3 separate regions of the Homo sapiens genome follow, and all the other regions are linked to region 2. Evidence: fine-mapped expression QTL. A gene starts in region 2. Each other region holds a variant in brackets. All regions are shown on one strand. Distances are from middle to middle. Region 1 overlaps LINC02811 (long intergenic non-protein coding RNA 2811). Region 2 holds the start of MYCL (MYCL proto-oncogene, bHLH transcription factor). Region 3 overlaps TRIT1 (tRNA isopentenyltransferase 1).

The links. PIP is the estimated chance that this variant, and not a neighbour inherited with it, causes the effect.
Region 1: its variant is the best candidate, but not a certain one, in a credible set for the expression of MYCL in whole blood (TOPMed, PIP 0.77).
Region 3: its variant is the best candidate, but not a certain one, in a credible set for the expression of MYCL in whole blood (TOPMed, PIP 0.71).

Annotation. Positions count from the first base shown.
Region 1 is chr1:39,804,767-39,812,945 of GRCh38, reverse strand. It overlaps LINC02811 (long intergenic non-protein coding RNA 2811), which reads left to right. Exons shown (of 4, transcript NR_186710.1): 2 at 1-11; 3 at 3,575-3,892. LOC130932201 (a long non-coding RNA gene) reads right to left here. Exons shown (of 4, transcript NR_186719.1): 2 at 7,914-8,068; 3 at 4,748-4,944; 4 at 3,511-3,884. Among named protein-coding and RNA genes, the nearest start is that of LINC02811, 8.6 kb to the left of the region's middle. The variant A/G (reference allele first, on the strand shown) is at 4,124.
Region 2 is chr1:39,898,793-39,906,938 of GRCh38, reverse strand. MYCL (MYCL proto-oncogene, bHLH transcription factor) reads left to right here and starts at 5,022. Exons shown (of 2, transcript NM_001033081.3): 1 at 5,022-6,000. The coding sequence starts at 5,505. MYCL-AS1 (MYCL antisense RNA 1) reads right to left here. Exons shown (of 3, transcript NR_183425.1): 3 at 7,841-8,146. RefSeq lists silencers at 4,449-4,658, 4,919-5,238, 5,649-5,768 and an enhancer at 7,628-7,922.
Region 3 is chr1:39,866,310-39,874,488 of GRCh38, reverse strand. All of the region lies in intron 1 of TRIT1 (tRNA isopentenyltransferase 1), which reads left to right. Among named protein-coding and RNA genes, the nearest start is that of MYCL-AS1, 13 kb to the left of the region's middle. The variant A/G (reference allele first, on the strand shown) is at 4,536.

The sequences.
Region 1 (8,179 bases), 94 kb after region 2:
TTCCAAAACAGGTAAAAATCATCAAACCACAGTTAAACAAGAAGACTTTTGGAGGCTGGTGCAGTGGCTCACACCTGTAATCCCAGCACTTTGGGAGGCTGAGGAGGGCGGAACACGAGGTCAGGAGATCGAGACCATACCGGCTAACATGGTGAAACCCCGTCTCTACTAAAAATACAAAAAAATTAGCCGGGCTTGGTGGCGGGCGCCTGTAGTCCCAGCTACTCGGGAGGCTGAGGCAGAAGAATGGTGTGAACCAATGGGAGAAGAATGGGAGAACCAATGACGGGAAGAATGGGAGGCAGAGCTTGCAGTGAGCCGAAATCGCGCCACTGCACTCGAGCCTGGGCAACAGAGTGAGACTCCATCTCAAAAAATAAAAAAATAAATAAATAAATATAAATAAGTTAGCCACCCGTGGTGGACATGCATGTGGTTCCAGTTACTTCAGAGGCTGAGGCAAGAAGATCACTTGAGCCCAGGAGGGAGATGCTGCAGTGAGCCGGTGTTTGAGCCACTGCACTCCATCCTGGTCAATGGAGTGAGACCCTATCTCAAAAAAAAAAAAACAACAACAACAACAACAAAAATTGCTGGGCATGGTGGCTCATGCCTGTAATCCTAGCACTTTGGGAGGCCGAGCCAGTCGGATCACTTGAGTCCAGGAGTTTGAGACCGCCCTGGGCAATATGGTGAAACCCTGTCTCTACTAAAAATATAAAAATTAGCCAGGCGTGGTGGCACGTGCCTATGGTCCCAGCTACTCAGGAGGCTGAGGCACGAGAATCGTTTGAACCCGGGAGGTGGAGGCTGCAGTGAACCAAGGTCTCTCCACTGCACTCCAGCCTGGGCAACAGAGCGAAACTCTATCAAAAAGAAAAAGAAAGAAGAAAGGAAAGAAAGAAGGAAGGAAGGAAGGAAGGAAGGAAAGAAGCCTTATGAATTATAACAGGATTAAAAGAAAAGTATACCTATGCACATCAGAGTAAAATGGCCAAAAACCAAAGACAATTTTTTCTTTTTTGATACAGGGTCTCACTCTGTTGCCCAGGCTGGAGTGCAGTGGTACAGCCGTGGCTCACTGCAGCCTCCACCTCCCAGACTCATGTGATCCTCCCACCTCAACCTCCTGAGTAGCTGGGACTACAGGCACATGCTGCCACGCCTGGCTAATTTTTTTTGTGTTCCACACCCGGCTAATTTTTGTGTATGTTTTGTACAGACAGGTTTTCAACATGTTGCCCAGGCTGATCTTGAACTCCTGGGCACAGCCATCCACCTGCCTCAGCCTCCCAAAGTGCTGAGATTACAGGCATGAGCCACCACGCCTGGCTGGATGAAATCTTAAAAGCAGTCAGAGAAAAGGGCAGTTTTACCTTCAAAGGAAGACTAGACTAACAGTTGACTTTTCAACAAAAATAATGCAAGCCAGGAGACACTGAATAATATGCAGTTGTCCCTCAGTATGTGTGGGGGATTTGTTTCAGAACAAATTTTATATAAGGGACTTGATCATCCATGGATACCAAAATCTTGATATGTTGCCCAGGCTGGTCTCAAACTCCTGGGCTCAAATCATCCTCTACCTCAGCCTCCCAGAGTGCTGGGATTATAGGCATGAACCACTACACCCAGATTGTATTCTGTTTTTTATTTATGTTATTTTTTATTGTTGTATTGTTATTTTTAAAAATTATTTTTCCCCGACTTTTTTATTTATTTATTTATTTTGAGGTGGAATCTTGCTCTGTCGCCCAGGCTGGAGTGCAGCGGTGCGATCTTGGTTCACTGCAACCTCCACCTCCCTGGTTCAAGCAATTCTCCTGCCTCTGTCTCCCGAGTAGCTGGGATTACAGGCGCCCGCCACCACCCACAGCTAATTTTTGTAGTTTTAGTAGTGACAAGGTTTCACCATGTTGGCCAGGCTGGTCTCGAACTCCTGACCTCAGGGGATCTGCCCACCTTGGCCTACCAAAGTGTTGGCATTACAGGTGTGAACCACTGTGCCTGGCCTCCCCAAATATTTTTGATCCATAGTTGGTTGAATCCGTAGATGCAGAATCCCAATAGAGAAGGCCAACTGTACTCAAAGGGCTTAAAGAAAATCGCTGCCTGTCTAGAACTCTATACTCAGCAAAAACATCCTTTAAAAATTAAGGTAACATAAGGCTTTTTCAGACAAAAAATTAAAAAGATAGTTCTTTCCAGCAGCCCCATATTGAAGGAAATAACATAGGGTGCTTTTCTGTCGGAAAGAAAATAACCCCAGATGGAAGCTCAAAAATGTAAGAACGACTAAAAAACAATGAAAATGGCTGGCTGCAGTGGCTCACACCTGTAACCCCAGCACTTTGGGAGGCCGAGGCGGGTGGATCACCTGAGGCCAGGATTTTGAGACCAGCCTGGCCAACATGGTGAAACCCCGTCTCTACTAAAAATACAAAAATTAGCCGGGCATGGTGGTGGATGCCTGTAATCCCAGTTACCCAGGAGGCTGAGGCAGGAGAATCACTGGAACCCAGGAGGCAGAGGCTGCAGTGAGCCAAGATCACGCCACTGCACTCCAGCCTGGGCAACACAGCAAGACTCCATCTCAACAACAACAAAAAATAGATCTAGATGTGTATGTGTCTGAACACACACATTGACGTAGTTCCTTGTTCTGTCTGCTGAGACTGCCTGAAATCAGTGGCACTCTGGCAGCACTGAACATCTTTGGCGCCCATTATAGATGGCATTCTCAGTGCTGGACTAGGGCTCCTTGTGGGCTGGAGCAAGAAATGTACAAGATGAACCTAGAATACCTTGCTGTGCCAGGAAATAAATAAATGCTCAAAGAATTATGAAGACACACTAAAGGGCGCAGCTGCCAACTTGAAGCATCTTCCACTGGCCAAATCTAAGATAGTATGACTTTCAAAATAGGTATCAAGTAATGGATTGTAGTTCATTGAGAAAAATAGGAATCCACGTGTTTATATGATATAAATAGATAAATGAATAAATACATTGGGGAGAATGGAAAGCTCTGTTTCGTCATAGAATAAGAATATTAACTAATAAATGTAAAAAAATGTTGAAATTAGAAAAACCTTGGCCTAGAGCAGTGGTTCACACCTGTAATCCCAGCACTTTTGGAGGCCGAGGTGGGTGGGTCACCTGAGGTCAGGAGTTCGAGACCAGCCTGACCAATATGGTGAAACCCCATCTCTAGTAAAAATACAAAAATTAGCTGGCTGTGGTGGTGGGTGTATGTAATCCCAGCTACTGCGGAGGCTGAGGCAGGAAGATTGCTTGAACCCAGGAGGCAGAGGTTGCAGTGAGCCGAGATTGTGCTACTGCACTCCAGCCTGGGCAACAGAGTGAGACTCTGTCTTAAAAAAATAAAAATAAAAATAAAAAAAGGGAAAATCTTCACTTGGCAACCATCGTAGTAGTAATTGATTTGGGTTGAAACTGGGTGAAGCAACTTTGATATGGAACAGGATATTTTTATACTCTCAGAACATCTCCCTATGAAATATTTATTCATTACTCATCACTTAACACGTACTAAATACTGTTAACTTTCCAGTGGAGAAACCTGGCAGACATCATCTTAGCCAAGTGGTAAACATTAACATCAGCAGTAATGGGACAAGTTGACATTGTGTGACTCCTAATATGGTACACTGAGAAGAATGTCGCATCGTTTCTGTGGTATTCCTGCCAGAGATGCATAAATCATGAGGACACAGCAGACAAATCCAAACTGAAGACAACCTACAAAGTCATTGACCTGTATTTTTCAAAAATCTTGGCCAGAGAAGGGAAGCCTGAAGAATTGTTCTAGAATAAATTAGACTGAAGAGACTCCTTGAAGGCGACTGAATTGGATGCTGGGCCTGTAAAGGTAATTTGGGGGACAATTAGTGTAATTTGTTGTTGTTGTTGCTTGCTTTTTAGTTTTTTTAAATTTTTATTTATTTATTTATTTTATTTTTTATTTTTATTTTTATTTTTTTGGTATTTATTGATCATTCTTGGGTGTTACTCGCAGAGGGGGATTTGGCAGGGTCATAGGACAATAGTGGAGGGAAGGTCAGCAGATAAACATGTGAACAAGGGTCTCTGGTTTTCCTAG[A/G]CAGAGGACCCTGCGGCCTTCCGCAGTGTTTGTGTCCCTGGGTACTTGAGATTAGGGAGTGGTGATGACTCTTAAGGAGCATGCTGCCTTCAAGCATCTGTTTAACAAAGCACATCTTGCACCGCCCTTAATCCATTTAACCCTGAGTGGACACAGCACATGTTTCAGAGAGCACGGGGTTGGGGGTAAGGTTATAGATTAACAGCATCCCAAGGCAGAAGAATTTTTCTTAGTACAGAACAAAATGGAGTCTCCAATATCTACTTCTTTCTACACAGACACAGTAACAATCTGATCTCTCTTTCTTTTCCCCACATTTCCCCCTTTTCTATTCGACAAAACCGTCATCATCATCATGGCCCGTTCTCAATGAGCTGTTGGGTACACCTCCCAGACGGGGTGGCGGCCGGGCAGAGGCGCCCCCCACCTCCCAGACGGGGCAGTGGCCGGGCGTAGGTGCCCCCCACCTCCTGGACGGGGCAGCTGCCGGGCGGAGGGGCTCCTCACTTGGCAGACGGGGTGGCTGCCGGGCGGAGGGGCTCCTCACTTCCCAGACAGGGCGGCTGCCGGGTGGAGGGGCTCCTCACTTCTCAGACGGGGCGGCCGGGCAGAGACGCTCCTCACCTCCCAGATGGGGTGGCGGTCGGGCAGAGACACTCCTCAGTTCCCAGACGGGGTCACGGCCGGGCAGAGGCGCTCCTCACTTCCCAGACGGGGTGGCGGCCAGGCAGAGGCTGCAATCTCGGCACTTTGGGAGGCCAAGGCAGGCGGCTGGGAGGTGGAGGTTGTAGCTAGCCGAGATCACGCCACTGCACTCCAGCCTGGGCAACATGGAGCACTGAGTGAGCGAGACTCCGTCTGCAATCCCGGCCCCTCGGGAGGCCGAGGCAGGCAGATCACTCGCGGTCAGGAGCTGGAGACCAGCCCGGCCAACACGGTGAAACCCCGTCTCCACCAAAAAATGCAAGAACCAGTCAGGTGTGGCGGCGCGCGCCTGCAATCCCAGGCACTCTGCAGGCTGAGGCAGGAGAATCAGGCAGGGAGGTTGCAGTGAGCCGAGATGGCGGCAGTACAGTCCAGCCTCGGCTTTCACAACTTTGGTGGCATCAGAGGGAGACCGGGGAGAGGGAGAGGGAGAGGGAGAGGGAGACGAGGGAGATGAGGGAGACGAGGGAGACGAGGGACGAGGGAGAGGGGAGAGGGCAGAGGGGAGAGGGGAGAGGGAGAGGCTTTTTAGGTTTTTTTGAGACAGGAACTCACTCTGTCACCCAGGCTTGAGTGCAGTGGCGTGATCTCGGCTTACTGCAACCTCTGCTTCCTGGGCTCAAGCGATCCTCCCATCTCAGCCTCCCAAGTAGCTGGGACTACAGGTGTGCACCACCACGTCCAGCTAATTTTTCTGTATTCTTTGTAGAGACAAGGTTTTACCATGTCTCCCAGGTTGGTCTTGAACTCCTAGGCTCAAGTGATCTGCCTGCCTTGGCCTCCCAAAGTGCTGGGCTTACAAGCATAAGTCACCACGCCCAGCCAATTGGTGTAATTTGAATGGAGTTAATGCATTAGTTTATATGGTTAAATAGTAGTATTTTATCAGTATTAATTTTCTGGTTCTGATTTTGTAAGGGTAATGTAGGAGAGTATAATTTTTTTTGAAATACATACTGAAGTATTAAGAGTAATGGGGCATAATATATACAATTTACTTTCAAATGGGTTGGAAAAATTACATATACTAATATAATATATATTATATATAAGGGATAGATAGAGAGAATAAGGCAAATGAGTAATCTAAGGGAAGAGTGTATGGATGGTCTTAGAACTATTTCAAAACTTCTGCAAGTTTGAAATTATTTCAAACTAAAAAGTTTATAAGAAAGTGAATCAATAAAAAAGATATATTATGCAAATACCAACCAAACAATGCTGTTATAACTATATTAATATCAGAAAAAGTAGACTTTAAGGCAAAAATAATTATTAGAAATAAAGAGAGCTGGGCGCAGTGGCTCACACCTGTAATCCCAGCACTTTGGGAGGCCGAGGCCAGCGGATCATGAGGTCAGGAGATTGAGACCATCCTGGCTAACACAGTGAAACCCCTGTCTCTACTAAAAATACAAAAAAGTTAGCCAGGCGAGGTGGCGGGTGCCTGTAGTCCCAGCTACTCCGGAGGCTGAGGCAGGAGAATGGCATGAACCCGGAAGGCGGAGCCTGCAGTGAGCCGAGATTGCGCCACTGCACTCCAGCCTGGGCGACAGAGCAAGACTCCGTCCCCCTCAAAAAAAAAAAAAAGAAATAAAGAGAGACTGCCGGGCGAGGTGGCTCACGGTTGTAATCCCAGCACTTTGGGAGGCCGAGGCGGGTGGATCACGAGGTCAGCCCAGCCAACACAGTGAAACCCTGTCTCTGCTAAAAATACAAAAATTAGCTGGGTGTGGTGGTGGGCACCTGTAATCCCAGCTACTCAGGAGGCTGAGGCAGAAGAATCGCTTGAACCTGGGAGGTGGAGGTTGCAGTGAGCTGAGATCATGCCACTGCACTCCAGCCTGGGCGACAGAGCTAGACTCCCTCTCAAAAATAAATAAATAAATAAATAAATAAATAAATAAATAAATAAATAGAAACACTTCATTAAAAAAAGTTCAACCCATCAAAAGATGAACTAATTCTAAGCCAAGCATGGTAGCACGTGCTGTAGTTCCAGCTACTCCAGAGGCTGAGGTGGGACGATCCCTTGAGCTCAGAAATAAGACCAAATCAGCCTAGGCAGGGAGACATCATCTCTAAAAAAAGTAAAATTAAAAAAAGATAAAATAACTCTAAACTTAGATTCTCCAACAACATAGCCTCAAAATACTTAAAGCAAAAACTGACAGAACTCAAAAAAGAAATAGACAAATTCAAAACCACAATGGGAATTTTAACATACTTCTCAATAATGGGTCAAAAAATTAGCCAGGTGTGGTGGCACATGCCTGTAGTCCCAGCTGCCCAGGAGGCTGAGGTGGGAGGATTGCTTAAGCTTGGGAAGTCGAGGCTGTGGTGAGTCATGACCACACCACTGCGCTCTAGCTTGGGTGACAGAGCAAGACTCTCAATAAAAAAGAAAGAAGAAAGGAAGGAAGGAAAGAAAGAAAAGGAAAGGAAAGAGGGAAAAAGGGACACAAAAAAAGAAATGTCAGAAATGAAAAGGGAGAAATCACTATAGATCCTACAGATGATGGTAACTCATACATTTCAGGTAGAATTGTAAATGCGTACTAGCATTTAGAAATCAGTTTGGTATTGTTTACTAAAGTTGAAGGTATACATATCCTGTCACCCAAAGTTTTATTCTTAGGTGTACAGCCAAGAGACACATATGCACTTTTGGGAAAAAAAACCCTCAAATATTTATTAATAGTACAATGTATAAGTGAAAAATACTATGCAGCAATGAAAACAAACTACTGTTTTATGCAATAGCATGGATGATGCTCACAAACCTATTATTGAGTAAAACAAAACAAAAAAAACCTTACCCCCCAAAATATATACTGTATGATTCTACTTACATAAAGTTCAAAAATAGCAAAAAAATAGTGTTTGGTATTTGAAGTCAGGGAAATCAACAAGAGGTGACAAAACACTTATCCTCAGGACTAGCAAGAACAGAAAAGTGTTATTACTCCTAAGCCTAAAGGAACAAGGGGAGAAGATGTCGCTAGAATCCTACATAAGAGATGACACCTGGATGGACTTATGACCTTTAAGTAGAGGACAGGGAGGGATCTGGGGAAATGAATACCCTGATCTCTTTTTCCTCCCATGCTTGTCTTCTGCCAGTGCTCCCCGTTGGTCAAGCCCAATCAGAAGGTGGAGAGTAGGAAATCCATTTCCTGCAGCTTATAAAGGTTGGCTTCCAGGAACACAGAACAAGATGGAGAAGAATAAATAATGGATCTGGAGGAGAAAACAGAGAACACTAGAGTAGTATTAAATCTGGAAGAAAAATTATTGGATTGTCTAATAAATTTTACAAAAAATGTAGTTATTTGATAACAAAAGTAAACC
Region 2 (8,146 bases):
CTTTGGGAGGCTGAGGTGGGTGGATCACCTGAAGTCAGGAGTTTGAGACCAGCCTGGCCAACATAGTGAAACCCCATCTCTACTAAAAATACAAAAATTAGCCAGGCATGGTGGCGCACACCTGTAGTCTCAGCTACTCAGGAGGCTGAGGCAGAAGAATTGCTTGAACTCAGGAGGTAGAGGTTGCAGTAAGCAGAGATCATGCCATTGCACTCTAGCCTGGGCAACAGAGCAAGACTCCATCTCAAAAAAATAAAGAAAAAGAAAGAAATTTAAAAATCAGGAAAAAGTAGATCTCTGTATTGGTCAAAATATGGAAAGAAATATGAGGGACAGTCCTGGCATGGTGGCTGAGGCAGCCAGATCGCAAGGTCAGGAGTTTGAGACCTGCCTGACCAACATGGTGAAACCCTGTCTCTACTAAAAATATAAAAATTAGCCGGGCATGGTGGCACACACCACACACACACACTCAGTGATGTGAGCTGAGATCACATCACTGCATTCCATCCGGGGCGACAGAGTGAGACTTTGTTTCAAAAAACAAAAACAAAAACAAAAAACAAAAAGCTAAAACAATAGCTGCCTTTGGGGAGTGGGAATCAGTTGATGGCAAGACAGAAGATGGCCTTTTTTTTTTAACTTTGCCATATGCCTAATTGATTTTTTAAAAAATTATTACATGTATTTTGATTAAAAACATATTTTAGAAAAAATAAAGGAAATAAAATATTGCAGAAAAATGGAAGGTCCCTGGGGTAGCATTTGTTACCTTGGTAAATTCATCAGCATCCTGGGTCCAGCTTAGAAACCAGAGTTGTTAGCCCTAAAAGCAGCAGCATCTCTACAGAACAGACACACATTAACCAGGTTCATGAGACTGATATTGCAAATCAGATGCCAATTCATTAATTTATAAGAGGAAGCAGGGCTTTGAAGCAGACTGGATCTTCCTGTTCAATGATGAGTGCATTCTCTCCCTGTGGACTGATCTACATAGGAAACAGAATGGTTTTTAGAGGGTTGCTTGGTGATCCAGAGCATGAGTGAGGTAGGGGGTGAATTGAGTGGCTCCAAAGAATGGTACTTCCATCTCCCTTTTTCCTGGACCAGCATCTTTGTCCCCAGAGAAGGGACACTGCTGGTGATTGTCTTGGCAACTCTCCCTGATCTCTGGCTTCCTTGGCTGCCCAGACCCTCCTAACTGGCACCCTCTTTCTTTAGCTGCATTAATACTTTTAACCAGGTTGTAGTCTAGACTGGGCCTGAGAGTTCTTCTGTCTCTATAAGGTATAGTTTGGCTCTGCGTCTGCAACCAAATCTCATCTCGAATTGTAATCCCCATGTGTCCAGAGAGAAACCTGGTAGGAGGTGATGGATCATGGGGGCAGTTTCCCCCATACTGTTCTTGTGATAGTGAGTGAATTCTCACGAGACTCGATGGTTTTATAAATGGCAGTTTTTCCTGCACTCACACCCTTTCCTGCTGCTTTGTGAAGAAGATGCTTGCTTCTCCTTCCCCTTCTGCCATAATTGTAAGTTTCCTGAGGCCTCCCAAGCCATGCGGAACTATGAGTCAATTAAACCTCTTTTGTTTATAAATTACTCAATCTCAGGTGTTTCTTTACAGCAGTGTCAAAACAAACTAATACAATTGGCATATCTCTACTTTAAAGCATTAGAGGTGAGATGTGGTGGCTCACATATGTAATCCCCGCACTTTGAGAGGCCAAGGTGAGAGGATCACTTGGGCCCAGGAGTTTGAGACCAGCCTGGGCAGCATAGGGAGACCCCATCTCTACAAAAAATTAGCCAAGTGTGGTGGTGCATGCCTCCTATGGTCCCAGCTACTCAGGAGGCTGACGTAGCAGGATCCCTGGAGCCCAGGAAGTCAAGGCTGCAGTGAGCCATGATTGCACCACCGCACTCCAGTCTGGGCAACAGAATGAGACCCTGTCTCAAAAAAACACAACAAAAAAATTCGGAGGCCAAGACAGGTGGATCACTTGAGGTCAGGAGTTCAAGACCAGCCTGGCCAACATGGTGAAACCCCATCTCTAGTAAAAATACAAAAAATTAGGGGGAGGGGGGAGGGATAGCATTATGAGAAATACCTAAAGTAAATGACGAGTTAATGGGTACACCAACATGGCACATGTATACATATGTAACAAACCTGCACATTGTGCACATGTACCCTAGAACTTAAAGTATAATAATAATAAAAAAAAAGGGACAGAAGCAGTATGATCTTTAAAAAAAAAAAATTAGCTAGGCGTGGTGACAGGTGCCTGTAATCCCAGCTACTCGGGAGGCTGAGGCAGGAGAATCACTTGAACCGGGGAGGCGGAGGTTACAGTGAGCCGAGATTGCGCCACTGCACTCTAGCCTGGGCAACAGAGTGAGACTTGTCTTAAAGGAAAAAAAAAAAAAACGCAAAAACTAAAACATTAGAGTTTTGTGTTCAGTCATATACTCAGCACCCATGATGTGCCAGGCTTTGTTCTAAAGCCCTGGGGTACAGCCATGAATAAGGCTGACATTTGTCTGCCCTCATTCAGTTTACAGTCTGACGAGGAAGACATTAAACAAACAAAAGTATGCAAAGTGAAGAAGCAGTGTTAACTCTCAGAAGACAACTTAATTTCCTTTTTCCTACTTCTTGAGGAGGGGCAGCACCTCCTGGTTGCCCCCATATATCATCTACAATGAAACCATGGGAAGAGCTGCAGGGTGGGGGCTGTAGTCTAGGTAAAGAAGGCCCATTCTCCAAACATAAATTTCCAGCCTCCCTTGAGGTCTATACCACCAATTATTCCAATAAAGTCATTTTCTGCTTACATTTGTCTAAGGTTGGTTTTTTGTTTGTTTGTTTTGTTTTGTTTTTTTGTTTTGAGACAGAGTCTCGCTCTGTCGCCCAGGCTGGAGTGCAATGGCGCAATCTCGGCTCACTGTGAGCTCCGCCTCCCGGGTTCACGCCATTCTCCTGCCTCAGCCTCCTGAGTAGCTGGGACTACAGGTGCCCACCACGACACCCGGCTAATTTTCTTGTATTTTTAGTAGAGATGGGGTTTCACCGTGTTAGCCAGGATGGTCTCGATCTCCTGACCTTGTGATCTGCCCGCCTCAGCCTCCCAAAGTGCTGGGATTACAGGCGTGAGCCACTGTGCCCTGCCTAAGGTTGGTTTTTGTTATTTGTAACCAATAACCCAGACTAGTACAGCAACCATCTCAGACATCTGTGGACCAGAGAAAAGTCACTAAAGGACAATCCAATGCCTGTGCCTTGGGGCTGCAACCAAACCTGGAACCCTTCTGATTTGTGTCTTCCGTTTAGCACAAAGCAGGGCACACAAGCTGTCTCAGTGAAATCTGGTTAGCTGAGTCCCTCAGTAAGTCAGTTAGTTCACAAATGTCTGCCAGAAGCTGTTCTAGGTGCAGAAATCACAAAGCAAGTAGGAGCAGGTTTCTGCCTTCAAGATGTCCCACATGCAGCACAGACCCAACGTATCTAAAACGGAAGGCTGTCATTTTCCCTGCCTTCCCAACCCATATAACAACACACATCCGTGTCCCATGCTCCAACCACACTGAATTGCTTGCCCTTCTCACTTCCGTCTGCCAACAGTGAGTAGTTTGGTGTTCTTAGACCACAGGGGTGGGAGGGAAAGAGAGAGACAGCAGACAATCAGGCTGGGGTAGACAGACACCAGACCTTGATGCCAGGTGGAGGAATCTAGATGTATTGGCTGCTGTCCCAAGTTACTCTCCTCTGGCCTAAATCTCAGACTGGCCGTATAGTTTAATTTTTTCTCTTCCACCAAAGGTCATCTGTGTAGAAGATGACACAAAGGGGGACCCAGCACGGTGACCCGTGCCTGTAATCCCTGCACTTTCGGAGGCTAAGGAGGGAGGATCATTTGAGCCCAGGAGTTCGAGGCTGCAGCGAGTCATGATCGAGCCACTGCACTCCAGCCTTGACGCTGAGTGAGACCCTGTCTCTTAACAAAATATATTTAAAATTTAAAAAGAAGATTATACAAAGGGGTTATCTATCATCTTGGCCAGCAATGCAGGGCAAAACTTGAAACAACTTGGTCCTGCAGTATTTTCCAGATGCCAAATCCTCATTCTCTACTGTACAGCTCCTACAGTGTTTTGTGTGAGATGAGAGGGAGCATGGCGGGTCTCAGCTGGCTTTGCCCTGGGAAAAATTCCTCATTTCTGCACCGCCTCCCCAAAGCGGGGGCTAAGCCAGCGCCGTCTGCCTCTCCACCTAGACCAGACCCCTTCCCTAGATGCTCTTATTTCCCTGAAGCCTCACAACAACCCTGTGAGGTAAGCATTACCATCCCTTCATTTTACAGATGAAACTGAAGCTCAGGAAGGTTACGTTTCGGGCTCTAAATCCCGGAATCTTCGCTTCGATGCCATCCAGGCTTGGGCCACTGAGCTCAAGAAACGGGCCGACGGGTGACCAGACGGACGCCGGGACCAGCCCAAGTTCAGGGCTGAGGGCCGCCAGGTGGCGCGTTTCCCTCCCCCTACCCCTCGCGGCGGCTCGGGCGCACCTGAACCCAGCGGGGTGCGCCGGGGAAAGTAGGCGCGCAGGGTGGGGCGGGGAGTAGCCCTAATTCCCCAGCTCGGAGTGGGCAAGGAGCACGGTTTAGCTCAGCCGGCTGGCACCGCCAAGCGGCCGCCGGGCCGCATCAGCCCTCCTCCTGTTTGCGCTCCCCAGCGTGCAATTTATTTGGGGGGCTACCGGGGATTGAACGGAGCGGGCGAGCGCTGCCAGGAGGTGGGGCCGGCCCCACCTGTCGACTGCCCGTAGTAGGCAGGGAGAGGGCGGGGTTTGTCCCATAGGGCCCGCCCCCCAGTCCCTGGGTCCCGGGCGCGCGACGAGATATAAGGCAGTCAGGAAACAATGCGCCTGCAGCTCGCGCTCCCGCGCCGATCCCGAGAGCGTCCGGGCCGCCGTGCGCGAGCGAGGGAGGGCGCGCGCGCGGGGGGGGCGCGCTTGTGAGTGCGGGCCGCGCTCTCGGCGGCGCGCATGTGCGTGTGTGCTGGCTGCCGGGCTGCCCCGAGCCGGCGGGGAGCCGGTCCGCTCCAGGTGGCGGGCGGCTGGAGCGAGGTGAGGCTGCGGGTGGCCAGGGCACGGGCGCGGGTCCCGCGGTGCGGGCTGGCTGCAGGCTGCCTTCTGGGCACGGCGCGCCCCCGCCCGGCCCCGCCGGGCCCTGGGAGCTGCGCTCCGGGCGGCGCTGGCAAAGTTTGCTTTGAACTCGCTGCCCACAGTCGGGTCCGCGCGCTGCGATTGGCTTCCCCTACCACTCTGACCCGGGGCCCGGCTTCCCGGGACGCGAGGACTGGGCGCAGGCTGCAAGCTGGTGGGGTTGGGGAGGAACGAGAGCCCGGCAGCCGACTGTGCCGAGGGACCCGGGGACACCTCCTTCGCCCGGCCGGCACCCGGTCAGCACGTCCCCCCTTCCCTCCCGCAGGGAGCGGACATGGACTACGACTCGTACCAGCACTATTTCTACGACTATGACTGCGGGGAGGATTTCTACCGCTCCACGGCGCCCAGCGAGGACATCTGGAAGAAATTCGAGCTGGTGCCATCGCCCCCCACGTCGCCGCCCTGGGGCTTGGGTCCCGGCGCAGGGGACCCGGCCCCCGGGATTGGTCCCCCGGAGCCGTGGCCCGGAGGGTGCACCGGAGACGAAGCGGAATCCCGGGGCCACTCGAAAGGCTGGGGCAGGAACTACGCCTCCATCATACGCCGTGACTGCATGTGGAGCGGCTTCTCGGCCCGGGAACGGCTGGAGAGAGCTGTGAGCGACCGGCTCGCTCCTGGCGCGCCCCGGGGGAACCCGCCCAAGGCGTCCGCCGCCCCGGACTGCACTCCCAGCCTCGAAGCCGGCAACCCGGCGCCCGCCGCCCCCTGTCCGCTGGGCGAACCCAAGACCCAGGCCTGCTCCGGGTCCGAGAGCCCAAGCGACTCGGGTAAGGACCTCCCCGAGCCATCCAAGAGGGGGCCACCCCATGGGTGGCCAAAGCTCTGCCCCTGCCTGAGGTCAGGCATTGGCTCTTCTCAAGCTCTTGGGCCATCTCCGCCTCTCTTTGGCTGAAGCTGCCCGTGTAGTCCCCAACCGTGTCTGTCTGGCACGTGGGTGTGTTGGTAAACAGTTTGGAAAAGTGGCGTGGGAGCCAGCCTCCCTTTGATGATTATTGGAGCCCCAGGGGACAAGGGATTTGAGGTGAGGGTTGGCGCTTAGAGAGGACAATACTGGGGTTGGACTGTAAGGGATTGAAGGGGGTACCTTAAGAGACACTCCAAACCTGAAGTTTTTTTGCTGCTGCCTCTTTCCCTAGGAAACTCACACTCCCCTAGGGGGAGAAGAAGCCGAGAGCCTTTTGTGCAAAGCCAAAACCTTCGTCCTTTTAAAAACCTAGGTCTCCAGTTGGCTTTACTTTAAAATGCCAATAATAAATGCCCTCTTCTCGTGCCTCCCCACCACCACTTACCACTCGTGCATCCCTGAGACAGGGAGGGAAGAATGAACACTCCCCATTAACAGATGGAAAAACTGAGGCTTAGAGATAGACAATCACTACAAGTCAGCTCCAGCTTTCTGCCATCTAGCCAGCCCCTCTTCCCCAATGCTCCATCCCAACCAGGCACCTCTTCCTTGATGTTTGGGGTCTTTGTGGTAGCTTATCTTAGAAGCACTACACCTTGCCTTGCTGTTTGTCCTGAGATGGAAAAGTGTCCTTCTTGCTCCCCCTCAATAGATCTCCAGCGTCAGCTGCTCCCTGGCATTCAACAAATATTCACTGGCCCCTACTTTGTGGCAATCTGTGGGCTACATGCTGGGGTCAAGGCAGTAGAACTCCAGGCCCTCCTCTCCCATCCTTGATGCAAGTGCAACCTCGCTGAGGGCAGACTGGGGCATCCTGTGCCACTAAACTACATTGTTCTTATTCTGGCATCTTAGACCTCCACACCCGTGAGAAATCCTGGAGAGGGTATTTTTGTAGAGTGTAGACTGTGGCTAGTGACAAATAAATTAGGACCAAGAAAGCTCACTGTAGCTTTTAGGAATAACTTTTACACGACCATTTGATAGGGAACTGGGGAATGGGGTATGGAAGTTTTCCTACACTTGAGAGAAAAAATAGGATAACAAAAATTAAAAGTCTTTTTTTTCCTGGTCCACTGTGTTAAGGTCATTTTTAACCAGCTTGCTTTCTACACCAAGAGTTTATGTTTGTTTAATGGCTGGAAAGAGAATCTTGAGATCAAAAAACCAATAAAGATGTATCTCTACAACGGCTGGTGGAGTGGTAGAGTGGAAAGAGCATTGCTTTGGAAGTTGGACATTTTAGTTTGAGATCCAGAACGTTACAAAGGTGATATGTGGACTTCGCTGATCTGGGCCTCAGTTTCCCCATTTGCACACGATGGGGTTGGACTTGATTGTCCTGCTGATGACATTTCCTTGTCTGGATAGAGTAAGACACTACTCTCTGAAAGGGAGAATGGTGTCTTAAATTATTTCTTTCTTAGATAGAATCTTCCTGAGCCACGAGGCTTAACACTGAAAATTAAAGGTTTGGGATGTAGGGAAGCCTGCTGAATCATTTTCTAACCTACCCTTTAACCTGAACCTGTTTGTGAGCTTCTAGTTCACTCACAGGCCACATGGCCTGGAACAAAATGCAACAGATTGCAAACAATGAGGCGGGGGGTGGGGAAAGTGATTGGCAGCAGAGCTCACCCAATAGGGGCTAGGGGCTGGGTAAGACAGAAGTCCAAACACAGCGTAATCAGCCAATCATGGGCTTTGGGGCCAGGAGGGCTGAATGGTCAGGTTTATTAATGGAGAAATAATGCGATTGTCCACACAATGGAAGCCTTCCTGACAAAGGGGCTCAAGCTTCCTGATATGCAAAGAAGCTGAGAACGGAGCTCTTCCTTTGCGAGGCCGAGATCCATTAAGGTGGACTTCTGTGTGGAGGCTGCAAAATGTGTGGAGCAGGAGGAGACTTTTCTCCCAATTGCCCCTCTCCTGGTTAGGTTAACCTAAGAGACCTTCAAGCCAGTGAATGAGAAGGGCGTGTCCAGGTGTCTCCAGGTCTCTGGTGTTAT
Region 3 (8,179 bases), 32 kb after region 2:
GTTAGATACTATTCTATTTTCTTTTAACACTATGTTATGGATATCTTTATATGTTAATGTATATAGCTATATCAGTAGTCTCAACTTGGGGTGATTTGGCCTCCTAGGGGACGTTTGGCAATCCCTGGAGACATTTTTGGTTCTAATAACTGGGGAGGTGGGTTCCTGGCATCTAATGGGTAGAGGCCAGAGACATTGCTAACATTCTAGTAGGCACAGGACAACTTCCCATAACAGAATTATTTGGCCCCAAATATTAATTGTACTAAAGTTAAGAAACTGTCCTATATTATTGTTTTTATAATTTTTTATTGATTGATTGATTGAGACACGGTCTTACTGTGTTACCCAGGCTGGTTTCAAACTCCTGGGCTCAAGCAGTCGTCCCACTTCACCTTCCAAGTAGCTGAGATTACAGGTTTAATTTTGATTTTGAAATAGTTGTAGATTTTTATTTTTATTTTTATTTTTTTGAGACAGAGTTTCGCTCTTGTTGCCCAGGCTGGAGTGCAATGGTGTGATCTCGGCTCACTGCAGCCTCCATCCCCCGGGTTCAAGCAATTCTCCTGCCCCAGCCTCCTGGGACTACAGGCATACGCCACCATAACCAGCTAATTTTGTATTTTTAGTAGAGATGGGGTTTCTCCATGTGGGTCAGGCTGGTCTCGAACTCCCGACCTCAGGTGATCCATCCGTCTCTGCCTCCCAAAGTGCTGGGATTACAGGTGTGAGACACTGTGCCTGGCCCGAAATAGTTGTAGATTTACACAAGAGTTTCAAAGATAGTACCAAGAGTTCCTGTATACCCTTCATCTACCTTGTCCTAATATTAATATCTTACATCATCATGGTACATTTATTAAAACTAAGAAATTGATATAGGTACAATACTATTAACTAAATTATAGTCTTGGATTTCACCAGTTTTTTCACTTATGTCCCTTTTCCATTTCAGGATTCAATTTAGGATACTATACTGCAGTTAGTCATCATGTATCTTTAGTGTCCTCCAATCTTTGACAGTTTTCAGTCTTTCCTTGTCTTTTACGACCTTGATACTTTTGAAGGGTACTGGTCAGCTCTTTTGTAGATGTCTCTCCATTTGGGTTTTGGTTTCTCATGATTAGACTTGGCATTATGGATTTTGGGAAAGTATACCACAGAAGTGAAGTACCCTTCTCATTGGATCATATCAAAGTATGATATCAACATAGTATTAGCATGGCTTATTACTGGTGATGGTAACTTTGATCATTTGGTTGAGATTGTATACACGTTTCTCCACTGAAAAAGTCACGATTTTTCTCTTTTTGTGTTATTTTTCTTTTCCATTTCCATAAAATGACAGTACCTAGTCTTATTTGTTGGAAATCATTTGCCAAGTCTGGCCCACACTGAATAGAAGGAGAATTAAGCTTCATTTCCAGGATGAAAGCTTATCAAATAATTTGCGGACATATGTTAAAAGCACCACAGTAATTAATAAATATTTTAGGGGAGATACCCTCAGGCTATGCAGATGTCCTATTTCTCCTTAAAGTTTCACCCTCTGATTTTAGCATTCATCAGAGTCTTTCTTTTCTTTCTTTCTTTTTGTTTTCTTCCTTTCTTCCTTTTCCTTCCTTTTCCTTCCCCTCCCTCACTTCTTCCCTTCTTCCCTCCCTCCCTCCCTCCCTTCCTTCCTTTCTCTCTCTTTCTCTCTCTCTCTGTGTGTGTGTGTGTGTGTGTGTGTGTGTTTAGTACTTCCTGTCTGGTATTACAAGATGCTTCTAGTCCCTTTCAGTGGAAAGAGCTAGGAAATGTATGTATGTATATTAATCTATATATACACACATTTATATTTATTTCTCTATCTGTATGTATATTAAAATAAGCATGGGTTTATACTGGTATCTCTGACTAATCCAGCACCACAAGATTCATTCTAGTCTTCCCCCCTTGCTTATTTGTGACTTCTTTCTCAGAGTAAGAAATTTAGCTCTCATTCCCTATAGTATATTTACTTATTTGTGTAACCTGTAGTTTCAGTGATTACTCCTGTGAGAAACAGATTTACCAACTAGAGTACAATGTTTGCCTACAGTTTGTTTGTTTGTTTTTATCCTTACAGTATCGAGTAGTAACATTGTTTTATGAAGTTACTTAGATCAGCTCCTTTTGTTTTCCTCTCTGAGGTTATATCAGACGTTTGTAATGCAGTTAGATTTCATTTGTTACAGTCTGTAGTCTATCCTGGGTTCCCAGATATTCTGGTTATTTTAAAAAATTTGCATACAGTGGCCAGCTGCAGTGGTTCACACCTCTAATCCAAGCACTTTGGGATGCCAAGGAGGGAAGATTGCTTGAGCCTAGAAGTTTGAGATCAGCTTGGGTAACATAGTGAGAGCCCATCTCTACAAAAAAAAAAAAAAAAAAAAAAATTAGTCAGGCCTGGTAGCACATACCTGTAGTCCCAATTTCTCCTGGCTCAAGCAGGAGGATGGCTTGAGCCAGGGAGGTCAAGGCTGCAGTGAGTCATGATGGTGCCACTGCACTCTAGCCTGGACAACAAAGCAAGACTCTGTCCCAAAAAAACATTTTTAAAAATTTTTTGCATACATATAGTAAAGTGTACTCTTTATGATGTTTAGTTCTATGGGTTTTGACAGATGCATAGAGTCAGATATATACCCCACAGTACCATACTGAACAGTTCTATCACCCTAAAAAATCCCTTATAGTGGCCCCTTTGTAGTCAACCCCTCTATCTCCTTCAATCTCTGGCAACAACTTACCTGTTTTCCATCCCTATTGTTTTGCCTTTTCCAGAATGTCTTAAAATGTAATCATACAATATGTAGCCTTTGAGGTTTGGCTTTTTTCACTTAGCAAAATACATTTTTTTAAAAGGTAGATTGATTGATTGATTGGAGACAGGGTCTCATTCTGTTGCCCAGGGTGGGGTGCAGTGGCGCCATCTCGGCTCACTGCAGCCTCAACTTCCTGGGCTCAAGCAATCCTCCTACCTCAGCACCCCAAGTAGCTGGGACTATAGGCCTGTGCCACCACACCTGGCTCATTTTTGTATTTTTTGTAGAGACGGTTTCACCACGTTGCCCAGGCTGGTCTGGAACTCCTGAGCTCAAGCAATCCACCTGCCTCAGGCTCCGATTATAGGCGTGAGCCACTGCACCTGGCCAGCAAAATACGTTTAAAATTCTTCCATGTTGTTGCATGCGTCCAATGCTCTTTATTGCTGAGTAGTATTCCACTGTTTGGATGTACCATAGTTTGTCTAGTCACCTTTTTTTTTTATGAGACGGAGTTTCTCCCTTGTTGCCCAGGCTGGGGTGCAGTGGTGCAATCTTGGCTTACTGCAACCTCCGCCTCCCGGGTTCAAATGATTCTCCTGCCTCAGCCTCCCGAATAGCTGAGATTACAGGCATGTGCGACCACGCCCAGCTAATTTTGTATTTTTAGTAGAGACATAGTTTCTCCATATTGGTCAGGCTGGTCTTGAACTCCTGATCTCAGGTGATCCGCCCTCCTCAGCCTCCTAAAGTGCTGGGATTACAGGCGTGAGCTACCGCGCCTGGTGTCTATTCACCTATTAAAGGACATCTGGGTTTCTGGTTTTTGGTGATTATAAAGAAAGCTATTGTAAACATTCATGTACAGGTTTTAGTGTGAAATTTCATTTGAGTAAATACCTAAGAGTGGGATTGCTAGGCTGTTTGGTAACTTTATGGTTTAACTTTACAGGAGACTACCAAACTGTTTTCTAAAATGACTGTACCATTTTGTATTTCTCCCAGTAGTGAATGAGAATTCGTGTTCTTCTGTATCTCTATATTATTTCCAGCATTTGGTATTGTCAGGCTTTTTTTTTTTTCTTTTAATTTCCGCAGTTCTATGTACTGGTATCTCATTGTCGTTAATTTACATTTCCCTAAAGACCAATGATGTTGAGCTTCTTTTTTTTTTTTTTTTTTTTTTAGTATTTATTGATCATTCTTGGGTGTTGCTCGCAGAGGGGGATTTGGCAGGGTCATAGGACAATAGTGGAGGGAAGGTCAGCAGATAAACATGTGAACAAGGGTCTCTGGTTTTCCTAGGCAGAGGACCCTGCGGCCTTCCGCAGTGTTTGTGTCCCTGGGTACTTGAGATTAGGGAGTGGTGATGACTCTTTACGAGCATGCTGCCTTCAAGCATCTGTTTAACAAAGCACATCTTGCACCGCCCTTAATCCATTTAACCCTGAGTGGACACAGCACATGTTTCAGAGAGCACGGGGTTGGGGGTAAGGCCATAGATTAACAGCATCCCAAGGCAGAAGAATTTTTCTTAGTACAGAACAAAATGGAGTCTCCCATGTCTACTTCTTTCTACACAGACACAGCAACAATCTGATTTCTCTTTCCTTTCCCCACACTTTCCCCCCTTCCACTTGACAAAACCGCCATCGTCATCATGGCCCGTTCTCAATGAGCTGCTGGGTACACCTCCCAGACGGGGTGGCGGCCGGAGAGAGGGGCCCCCCACCTCCCAGACGGGGC[A/G]GCCAGGCAGAGGCGCCCCCCGCCTCCCGGACGGGGCGGCTGGCCGGGCAGAGGCTGTCCCCCACCTCCTGGAGGGGGCAGCTGCCTGGCAGAGACGCTCCTCACTTCCCAGACGGGGCGGCTGCCGGGCGGAGGGGCTCCTCACTTCTCAGACGGGGCGGCCGGGCAGAGACGCTCCTCACCTCCCAGATGGGGTGGCGGTCGGGCAGAGACACTCCTCAGTTCCCAGATGGGGTCGTGGCTGGGCAGAGGCGCTCCTCACATCTCAGACGGTGGGCGGCGGGGCAGAGACGCTCCTCACTTCCTAGATGGGATGGCGGCCGGGAAGAGGCGCTCCTCACTTCCCAGACTGGGCGGCCGGGCAGAGGGGCTCCTCACATCCCAGACGATGGGTGGCCAGGCAGAGACACTCCTCGCTTCCCAGACGGGGTGGCGGCCGGGCAGAGGCTGCAATCTCGGCACTTTGGGAGGCCAAGGCAGGCGGCTGGGAGGTGGAGGTTGTAGCGAGCCAAGATCACAACACTGCACTCCAGCCTGTGCAACATTGAGCACTGAGTGAGCAAGACTCCGTCTGCAATCCCGGCACCTCGGGAGGCCGAGGCTAGCAGATCACTCGCGGTTAGGAGCTGGAGACCAGCCCGGCCAACACGGCGAAACCCTGTCTCCACCAAAAAAATATGAAAACCAGTCAGGCGTGGCGGCGTGCGCCTGCAATCCCAGGCACTCGGCAGGCTGAAGCAGGAGAATCAGGCAGGGAGGTTGCAGTGAGCCGAGATGGCGGCACTACAGTCCAGCCTCCAGTCTGCATCAGAGGGAGACCCTGGAGAGAGAGGGAGAGGGAGACCATGGGGAGAGGGAGGGGGAGGGGGAGAGGGAGAGGGAGAGCTTTTTTTCAGACAGAGTTTTGCTCTTGTTGCCCAGGCTGAAGTGCAGTGGCACGATCTCGGCTCACTGCAACCTCTGCCTCATCGGTTCAAGCGATTCTCCTGCCTCAGCCTCCCGACTAGCTGGGATTACACATGCCTGCCACCACGCCCAGCTAATTTTTATATTTTTAGTGGAGACGGGGTTTCACCACGTTGGCCAGGATGGTCTAGAACTCCTGACCTCAGGTGATCCACCCGCCTCGGCCTCCCAAAGTGCTGGGATTACAGGCGTGAGCCACCACGCCCAGCCAGTGTTGAGCTTCTTTTCATATCCTTATTTGCCATCTGTATATCCTTGGTGAAGTGTCTCTCAGATCTTTTGCCCACGGGAGTGGGGTTGTTTTCTTATTGATGAATTTTAAGAGTTTTTTTTTTTTTTTTTTGAGAGGAAGTTTTGCTTTTGTCGCCCAGGCTGGAGTGCAATGGCGCGATCTTGGCTCACTGCAACCTCCACCTCCCGGGTTCAAGTGATTCTCCTGCCTCAGCCTCCTGAGTAGCTGGGATTATAGGTGCTTGCCAGCACGCCTGGCTAATTTTTTGTATTTTTAGTAGAGATGAGGTTTCACCATGTTAGGCAGGCTGGTCTCGAAGTCCTGCCCTCAGATGATTCACCTGCCTCAGCCTCCCAAAGTACAGGGATTACAGGCGTGAGCCACTGTGCCTGGCCAAGAGTTCTTTATATATATCCTGGGTATAAATCCTTTATCAGATATGTTATTCGCAAATATTTTCTCCCAATCTGTGGCTTATTTTTTCATTCTCTTCACAGTATCTTTCACAGAGCAAAAGTTCTACATTTTTATAATGCCTAATTTAATTTATCTTTTTTTTTCTTTTATGGATCACGAGGTCAGGAGATCGAGACCATCCTGGCTAACACGGTGAAACCCCGTCTCTACTAAAAATACAAAAAAAAATAGCCAGGCATGGTGGCGGGCTTCTGTAGTCCCAGCTACTTGGGAGGCTGAGGCAGGAGAATGGCATGAACCCGGGAGGCGGAGCTTGCAGTGAGCCGAGATGGAGTCACTGCACTCCAGCCTGGGCGACAGAGCGAGACTCCATCTCGAAAAAAAAAAAAAGAATCTTGAAGGGGTTCAGTGTGTGGTAGCTGTCTTTTCCTCAGTTTCTGGAATTTAATTTCACCTCAGTAGGAATTCATTACTTGAAGCAAACAAATATACCAGAGTCAAATGGGGATAAAAATTCTAGTGAGTGGCAGCAGAAATAGCTTGGGTTATAGGCAGAGCAGCCTGGCATTAGTCCTGTCTCTGCTTCCAGCCAGTTATATGGCCAGGGGAGCCTGAGTATTCTCGAATATAAAATGTTGGGTGTTTGGACTGGATGCAGAGCTTCTCCAGTGTTTGTTTGCAGGTGGACTCCAAGCAGCCACTGCAGAAGCTCTGTGTCGCAGTTTCTCATGTTTTAACTTAAAAATATGTGCCAATTTTGCATTCTCTGCCCTAATGTTTGTTTAGATGTAAAAATGTTTCAATTTTTTTTTTCTGCTACCTAGTAAGATTGATACTTCAGAAGAATGTATCACATGTATGTTATACACATCTCAGTTTGAAAACTATGGCCTTGGCCAGGCGCAGTGGCTCACCCCTGTAATCCCAGCACTTTGGGAAGCCAAGGCGGGCGGATCACCTGAGGTTGGGAGTTCGAGACTAGCCTGACCAACATGGAGAAACCCCGTCTCTACTAAAAATACAAAATTAGCCAGGCATGGTGGTGGATGCCTATAATCCCAGCCACTCGGGAGGCTGAGGCAGGAGAATCACTTGAACCCAGGAGGTGGAGGTTGCGGTGAGCCGAGATTGTGCCACTGCACTTCAGCAAGGGCAACAAGAGCGAAACTCCATCTCAAAAAAACAAAAGAAGAAAACTATGGCCTTATATGATTCTGGTCCCTTTTCCCTTAAAGAGAAGAGCCGTAGGAAAGAATAAAAGCCATAATCTGCACTATAAATTCCAAACCATGAGTCTCATCACACTGACTCAACAGATCAGGCACAGATTCTCCTGCTTTTTTATTTTATTTTTTGAGACAGTGTCTCACTTCAGGCTGGAGTGCAGTGGTGCAATCATGGCTCACAGCAGCCCTGACCTCCTGGCTCAAGCAGTCCTCCCACCTCAGTCTCCTGAGCAGCTAGAACTATAGGCACGTGCCACCATGCCTGGCTGATTAAAACTGTTTTTTTGTTTTTGTTTTGTTTTTTTTGTAGACATGGGGTCTTTGTGTTGCCTAGGCTGGTTTCAAACTCCTGAGCTCAAGCGATCCTCCTATCTTGGCCTCCCAAGGTGTTGGGATTACAGGTGTGAGCCACTGTGCCTGGCCTTCTCCTGCTTTCTGAGCATCTTAATGTGTCCAGTTTATTCAGCATATCTACAGTTGAATTTCTGCCAGAGTTGAAAAGAGTAATTGCCTTGATGTTCCTGCAGCAAACTTATTAGTCCTAACCTACTGAAGTTATGTTTAAAAAAAGTTTTCTTTTAATTAAAAAAGTAAAGTGAGTCAAGAAATCAGCCTTTCCCGTACTCTTCAACATCTCTTCAGTTGAATTTGTCTAAAGGAAAATCAACTTCCCAGTGAGTGTCAACATCTTTAAGAAAATAATTTTTCCTTTCATCTACCTATGCTAAAACTATCTTTTCTCCCGAAGCTTGGACTATTAAAACTAGAAGAAATTAGCTGGGCGTGGTGACAGGTGCCTATAA